Homo sapiens: one gene and its partner. The protein of the gene in region 2 interacts with the protein of the main gene of each other region in a pairwise test. Each region holds a gene or a part of one and is shown on either strand. Other genes may lie near its edges.

Region 1 (3,815 bases), on a different chromosome or scaffold from region 2:
TACGTGATCACCTAACCTAAGAGATGCCTCCTGACCTACGCCTCCCAGGGCAATGCAGATGGCGCTGTGAACCTCCTTTAAGGAGCACGGGAAAGACACCACGTGAGGGTGACGATGTGACAGCAATCACAAATGCCTGCTCACGGGACGGACGAGAACCCAGCTGTGCAGCGCTTTGCGAGGGGGGCCTGAGGCCCTCAGTGACTGCAGCCTTCGACTTAGAAACGGCTAAGCCTGAAATGATGGGGTGTGCCCCGGATGCCTCAGACAACAGATAAAGCTACTCCAGCCAGGAAGACACAGAAGTGGAAGACGGAGATAAAACTGCATGAAACGAAGGGATAAAGGAAGAGCAGGATTTCTAAATGAAGATACCGGTTCCTAAAGGATGCAACCTGAGAGAAGCATAATGACCATATCAGCCTATTTATAAGCAGGCAGTTAACTCATTCATCACTCTGTAGCTGACGCCTGTGCCCCCAGCTGCACTCACATGGCGTGGTGAGCTTTCACCTGAGTGCGGCAGTTACGGCCCCAGTAGCAGTCAGGACGGGATGTTACGGCCACTGGAAAAAGAGAAGGGGTACGCATCTATGAGATGTATTGCACGCACCCACTCAGCTACCTGAATCCCAGCAGAGACCCAACGACAGACGCTGCGGTGGAAACGCACGGCCTCTGGTCCCTCCATAACTAGTTTCCTCGGACCGTTCTGAGATTTCAGGAAAGGAAACACATGTTTAACTAAAAACCCAACTGAGGGTCAGGTACAGTGGTTCATGCCTGTAATCCCAGCACTTTGGGAGGCAGAGGCAGGAGAATCGCTTGAACCTGGGAGAGGGAAGTTGCAGTGAGCCAAGATCACACCACTGCACTTCAGCCTGGGCGACAGAGTCAGACTCTGTCTCAAAAATAAATAAATAAATAAAAATTAAAAAATAAAAACCCAATTGAGGAAATAAAATTACCCCAGTTGACTATTGGATGTCTTTACAAATCTGTTTTAGAAACCCACGTTACACTCATGAGTAACTGCAAATAGACCCAGGGCCTAAAACAACCACAGCCCTGTATGGCCTGACGTCCTGCCGGCTCCTGACTGAGGCCAAATTCTGCTTAGAACATTGAGCAAAGTGCAAACAGGGTGTCTGTAAAGAAAAGAGTGCTGGCCGAGCGTGGTGGCTCATGCCTGCAATCCTAGCACTTTGGGAGGCCGAGGTCAAGAGTTCGAGACCAGCCTGGCCAACATGGTGAAACCCCGTCTCTACTAAAACACAAAAAATTAGCCGGGCGTGGTGGCGGGTGCCTGTAATCCCAGCTACTCAGGAGGCTAAGGCAGAAGAATTGCTCGAACTCAGGAGGCAGAGGTTGCAGTGAGCCGAGATTGCACCACTGCACTCCAGCCTGGGCAAAAACAGCGAAACTGTCTCAAAAAAAAAAAAGAGAGGCAGAAGCCAAGAAGCCAACCCAGACAGAACTAGAGCCATGAGGAAGTCGGGGGCTCCTTACCTGGCAACTCGGAAGCAGGAATGTTCTGCCGATACTGATAGGTCAGCTCACGGAAGCTGCGCAGGCCACAGCAGTAACACAGAACGGTGTCTCCCGTGACTCTGTAATCTGGAAGAAACACAGCCAGTTACCCAGCAACACCATCTTCCCAACAGCAGCGCACGGACTTCACAGCAGTGGGAGACTAACGCACTGACCATAAATGGGGTGAAGACAACGGGCGACACATTAGGAAAATAAGAACAAAGCCAATCTAGATACGAATTTATTTTTATTGAGACGGAGTCTCGCTCTGTCGCCCTGGCTGGAGTGCAGTGGTGCGATCTCGGCTCACTGCAAGCTCCGCCTCCCGGGTTCACGCCATTCTCCTGCCTCAGCCTCCTGAGTAGCTGGGACTACAGGTGCCCGCCACCACACCGGGCTAATTTTTTGTATTTTTAGTAGAGACTGGGTTTCACCGTGTTAGCCAGGATGGTCTCGATCTCCTGACCTCGTGATCCACCCGCCTCGGCCTCCCAAAGTGCTGGGATTACAGGCGTGAGCCACTGCGCCCGGCCACCAATTTATTTTCTTACAGCAAAACAATCCCACGTGGATATAACATTTATTTTATTTATTTTTTGAGACCAAGTCTTGCTCTGTCGCCCAGGCTAGAGTGCAGTGGCGGGGTCTCAGCTCACTGCAACCTCCACCTCCTGCGTTCAACTGATTCTCCTGTCTCAGCCTCCCGAGTAGCTGGGACTACAGGTGTGTGCCACCGTGCCCGGCTAATGTTTATACTTTTTTAGTAGAGATGGGGTTTCACCATGTTGGCCAGGCTGGTCTCAAACTCTTGTCCTCAGATGATCCGCCCGCCTCGGCTTCCCAAAATGCTGGGATTACAGGCGTGAGCCTCCACGCCCGGCCCCACATGGATATAAAATTTAAATATTAAAACTCCCAAAAAACAAGAAGAAAATGAGAAAATTAGCTATTTCTAAGTATGTCTTGAAAACCAAATTGCACAGAGGAAAGGATTTGTACATTTGGCTATCTACAATTTAAACATCAAAATTAAAATAAATACAACAAAAGTGAACTACTACTATAGTGGAAACATTTGCAACACAAATGAAAATGTGCTATACCCTTAATTAACAAAGATATCGGCCAGGCACGGTGGCTCGCGCCTGTAATCCCAGCACTTTGGGAGGCCGAGGCAGGCGGATCACAAGGTCAGGAGTTCGAGACCAGCCTAACCAAGATGGTGAAACCTCACCTCTACTAAAAATACAAAAAAAAAATTAGCTGGGCATGTTGGCGGGTGCCTGTAATCCCAGCTACTCAGGAGGCTGAGGCAGGACAATTGTTGAACCTGGGAGGCGGAGCTTGCAGGGAGCTGAGATTGTGCCATTGCACTCCAGCCTGGGTGACACAGCAAGATTCCATCTCAAAAAAAAAAATAAATAAATAAATAAAAATAAAAAAACTAAGATTAGCCAGGCATGGTAGCACACGCTTGTGGTCCCAGCTACTTGGGAGGCTGAGGTGAGATGATCTCTTGAGCCCAGGAGGTCGAGGCTGCAGTGAGCTGTGATCATGCCCCTGCACTCCAGCCTGGGCGACAGAGCAAGAACCTGTCTCATATATATATTTCTACAGCCTCCCTTAGTGATAAATTATCATACTCCACAAAGCATCGTGTGCCCCCCTGGAGAGGAGTGACCCTCACCAAGTGACTGACACATCAAGCAAGAGATTCACCAAGTCCCCGAGGGTCCCAGGACAACTGACCCCAGGACCTCTGGATAGACAAGTGGTAGAGACCCTCCAAGCTGGCCCCACCTGTTGGAGGCCACACAAATGTTTCTTATGATTAGGCATAATTGAAGCCTGTCAGTAACAGTATGAACCTGTGATCAATTTAGCAGCTGCCCAGTTGTTACCTCCTCCTTGCTCTTGTTACCCAATAAATATGAAGGGCTGTAGAAGCTCAGGGGCAGCCTTTACTCACTAGAAGCAGGGAGCTCTCCTCTTCTTCCCCATGTTGCCTTTCCTTAAAAGTTTCTTTTGTCTTTTTGTTTTCATTTCTACGTTTGTCCCTTTGTTCAGTCCTGTAATGATGGTCTCAAGCAGTAACAGCAGTAACTGCTGTAGTGAGGGTCTCAAGCAGCAGTAGTGGCAGTCGGCCACACCCACCCTCCCCTACAAGGATAGAAGCTGCTGGAATATGTCATACAGGTTCATGCTTAACTGTCTTTTTTTTTTTTTTTTTGAGACGGAGTCTCGCTCTGTCCCCCAGGCTGGAGTGCAGTGGCGTGATTTTG
Region 2 (3,815 bases):
CCCAAGCTGGAGTACAGTGGCATGATCACAGCTCACTACAGCCTCAAACTTTGGCCCAAGCAATCCTCCTGCCTCAGCCTCCCAAGCAGCTAGGACTACAACTGTGTGCCACAGCACCCGGCCAATTTTTAAAATTGTTTTGTAGAGACCGGGTCTCACTTTGTTGCTCAGACTGATCTCAAATTCCTGGCTTCAAGCAATTCTCCTGCCTCAGCCTCCCAAAGTGCTTGGATTACAAGTATGAGCCACTGCACCTGGTCCCAATTTAAAGCTTTTTAACAAGAGTTTTTCAGAGGGGAAGGGATAGCAAAGAGTCTACCTAACCTGTCTAAGAATCAAAAGCTTTATTGCCTGAAGCAATTTATAGAAAAAGTGTTTCCAAGTCTGGAAAGAAAAAAATAATGAACCTTCAGTCATTCTTTCAGCCACTGTTGTAGTAGCAAATTGTGTCCAATAAAACAAAATCCCTGCCTTCAAAAAGAGGGTCACCTAATAAATTATATGAAATATTCAGAGTTCAGCAAGGCCTCAAAAAAGTATGAAACCAATTGTACAAAAGAGGTGGAAAGTTAACAAAAAAAAGACATAACAACTGACTCTCAGAAGACAATCAGAAGTGTACCAGGTAAAGGCAGGAGATGGTGAAGGGATTAATATTCCAGGTAAGTAAAGAATGTACAAACGCAAAGAAATATCAAGCAGCATGGTCTGAATAGCAAATCAAAAAATAACAACAGGTTCAACTTCTGATAGTGATAGAGTAACTTATATCTGGCTAACATTTCTGCATATAACAACAATAAATCTTACATAAAATACCAAAAAAAGGTGATTTTATTTATTTGTTTGTTTATTGATTGACTGATTGAGACAGAGTCCTGCTCTGTCGCCCAGGCTGGAGTGCAGTGGCACGATCTCGGCTCACTGCAACCCCTGCCTCCCAGTTTCAAGTGATTCTCCTACCTCAGCCTCCCAAGTAGCTGGGATTACAGGCATGTGCCACCACATCCAGCCAATTTTTTTTTGTATTTTCAGTAGAGACAGGATTTCGCCATGTTGGCCAGGCTGGTCTCCAACTCCTGACCTCAAGTGATCCGCCTGCCTCGGCCTCCCAAAGTGCTGGGATTACAGGCGTGAGCCACCACGCCTGGCCTCAAAAAATGACTATTTTGAATGCATTTGAAAAGCTGGCACAACTAGAGGGAAGTCAATCCTTAAAAAAAGAGAAATTTGCCAGGTGCGTTGGCTCAAGCCTGTAATCCCAGCACTTTGGGAGGCCAAGGTGGGTGGATCACGAGGTCAGGAGCTCGAGACCAGCCTGACCAACATGGTGAAACCCCATTTCTAACAATACAAAAATTAGCTAGGCACAGTGGTGCATGCCTGTAGTCCCAGCTGCTCGGGAGGCTGAGGCAGGAGAATCGCTTGAACCTGGGAAGCAGAGGTTGCAGTGAGCCAAGATCGCACCACTGCATTCCAGCCTGGGTGACAGAGTGAGACTCCATCTCAAAAAAAAAAAAAAAAAACCCAGAAATTTAAGGGGTTATATTCAACAGCATAAGGCTTTCCAGCTGAGGGCACTCCCCAGTTCACACAGTGTGAGCTAGAACTCAAACAGAAGGCTGTAGCTTGAAAAGTCTGGTACTGACTGAACAAAGTGGCTCATACTTGTAATCCTAGCACTTTGAGAGGCCAAGGCAAGAGGATTATTTGAGCCCAGAAGTTCGAGACCAGCCTGGGCAACAAAGTCAGACCTGGTCTCTACAAAAAATTTAAAAATTAGCCTAGCGGGGTGGCACACGCCTGCAGTCCCAGCCACACAGGAGTCTGAAGCAGGCAAATCACTTGAGCCCAGGAGGTAAGGCTACAGTGAGCTGTGTTCACACCACTGCACTCCAGCCTGGGCAACAGAATGAGACCCTGTCTCAAAAAAAAAGTTTGGTACTGCCAGAGCAGCTAAAAAATGAGAGGAAGATCCAAAAAAAGGACGACGTCACAGTAGGAAACATACCAAAATCTACTGTATAAACTTAGGTACCCATATCCCTGGCTATCCCCTAAACTGTGAAGATGCAAGGGAGACTCCAAGGAGCCTGGAGAAAACAGATGAAAGGCCAAAGAACTGAGCAGAGATTTCGGGACAAATCTCTGGTATCCACAAGAGGGGAGAAAGAGTTTGCATTTTGAGGCTACCTAAGTTAAATAACTGCCTGTATGAAAATCAAACTTTTTATGTAGGAAGAGAACAGAATTCAGAGCCTCAAGAGTGAAGCTGAAATGTGCAGATTACATTTACAAAATAATTAGATATAGTTAAAAAAAAAAACAAAAAGTGACTCCCAGTTAGGAGAAAAGGCAATCATTAGAAACTGAGCCTGATATAAGCAAGCACAAGTCCAAATTACCAAACAAGGACTACACTAGCAAACAAGCAGCTACTCTCAGTATGTTGAAGGACCTAAAGAAAAATATAATCATAATGAATGAACAGATGGAAAAATCTTACAAAAAAATTATACGAATTTGAAAATGAAAAGCACAATATTCAAAATGAAAAATTCACTGTTGAATTTGAAGCTGCAGTGCCACATACATGCCACTGCACATCAGCCTGGTGGTAGAACAAGAACCTGTTTTTAAAAATTCACAATTTATCAACAGATTGCTAATAGCAAAAGAAAGGGTCAGTGAACATTAAATCAACTTAAAATAATCCAAATGAACACAAGGGAAGCCTGGGCAACATGGTGAAACCCTAACTCTAAAAAAAATACAAAATTAGCTAGGCTGATGGTACACGCCTGTATAGTCCCAGCTACTTGAGAGGCTGAAGTGGGAGGATTGCTTGAGCCCAGGAGACCAAGGCTGCAGTGAGCTGTGATCATGCCACCACACTCCAGCTTGGGTGACAGAGAGAGATCAATTTGTTTACTCTCTGTTCAAGGCCAGTGGAGAAAGAAAAATGAAAATGAAAATTTTTGTTCATTGTTTTGCTAAGCTTCTACCAATGATGAGACACTAAAAACTTTAGATAAAATCTTACCTTTTTTTGTCAAATTTTTCCATACATTCTAGAGGCTGAATGAACTGAAGAACTTCATCCCATTGACCATCAAGTATTAGCTGCCTAAATAAAAAATTTAAAAAAACCAGCATGTCACCAAATTCAGGTTATACTAATTAAAAGCAGAACAGATGACAAAACAGCATTCAAACTTCATAAAGCACACAATGAGATTAACATTTTATTTGATTCCTCAAATAAATTTTTCATAATTTTTTTTTTTTTTGAGACAGAGTGTCGCTCTGTTGCCCAGGCTGGAGTGCAATGGCACAATCTCGGCTCACTGCACCCTCTGACTCCTGTGTTCAAGCGATTCTCCTGCCTCAGACACCCGAGAAGCTGGGACTATAGGCTCGCACCACTAAGCCCCACTAATTCTTTTCTATTTTTAGTAGATACAGGGTTTCACCATGTTGGCCAGGCTGGTCTCAAGCTCCTGACCTCAGGTGATCCACCCACCTCAGCCTCTCAAAGTGCTGGGATTACAAGCGTGAGTCACCTCACCTGGCCTAAATTTTTCATAACTTATTTGTAACAACATACACTGTATGAGAAGAATTTGTGAATCTGCAACCACTCATACTAACTATATATATGTGGGTTTTGACCTATGTAAAAACATTGGACATGCCAGGCGTGGTGGCTCACACCTGTAATCCCAGCACTTTGGGAGGCCAAGGTGGGCAGATCACCTGAGGTCAGGAGTTTGAGACCACCCTGCCCAACATGGCGAAACCCCGTCTCTACTAAA

What was found.
Region 1: the proteins of WDR47 (region 2) and CHFR interact in a two-hybrid assay, tested with the Homo sapiens proteins (one large-scale study listed by IntAct).

What each region holds. Positions count from the first base shown.
Region 1 is NC_000012.12:132,842,518-132,846,332, forward strand, and holds part of CHFR (E3 ubiquitin-protein ligase CHFR), read right to left. Parts: intron 1,618-3,815; coding exon 1,510-1,617; intron 567-1,509; coding exon 494-566; intron 1-493. UniProt on the Homo sapiens protein: E3 ubiquitin-protein ligase that functions in the antephase checkpoint by actively delaying passage into mitosis in response to microtubule poisons.
Region 2 is NC_000001.11:109,014,475-109,018,289, forward strand, and holds part of WDR47 (WD repeat-containing protein 47), read right to left. Parts: intron 3,128-3,815; coding exon 3,044-3,127; intron 1-3,043.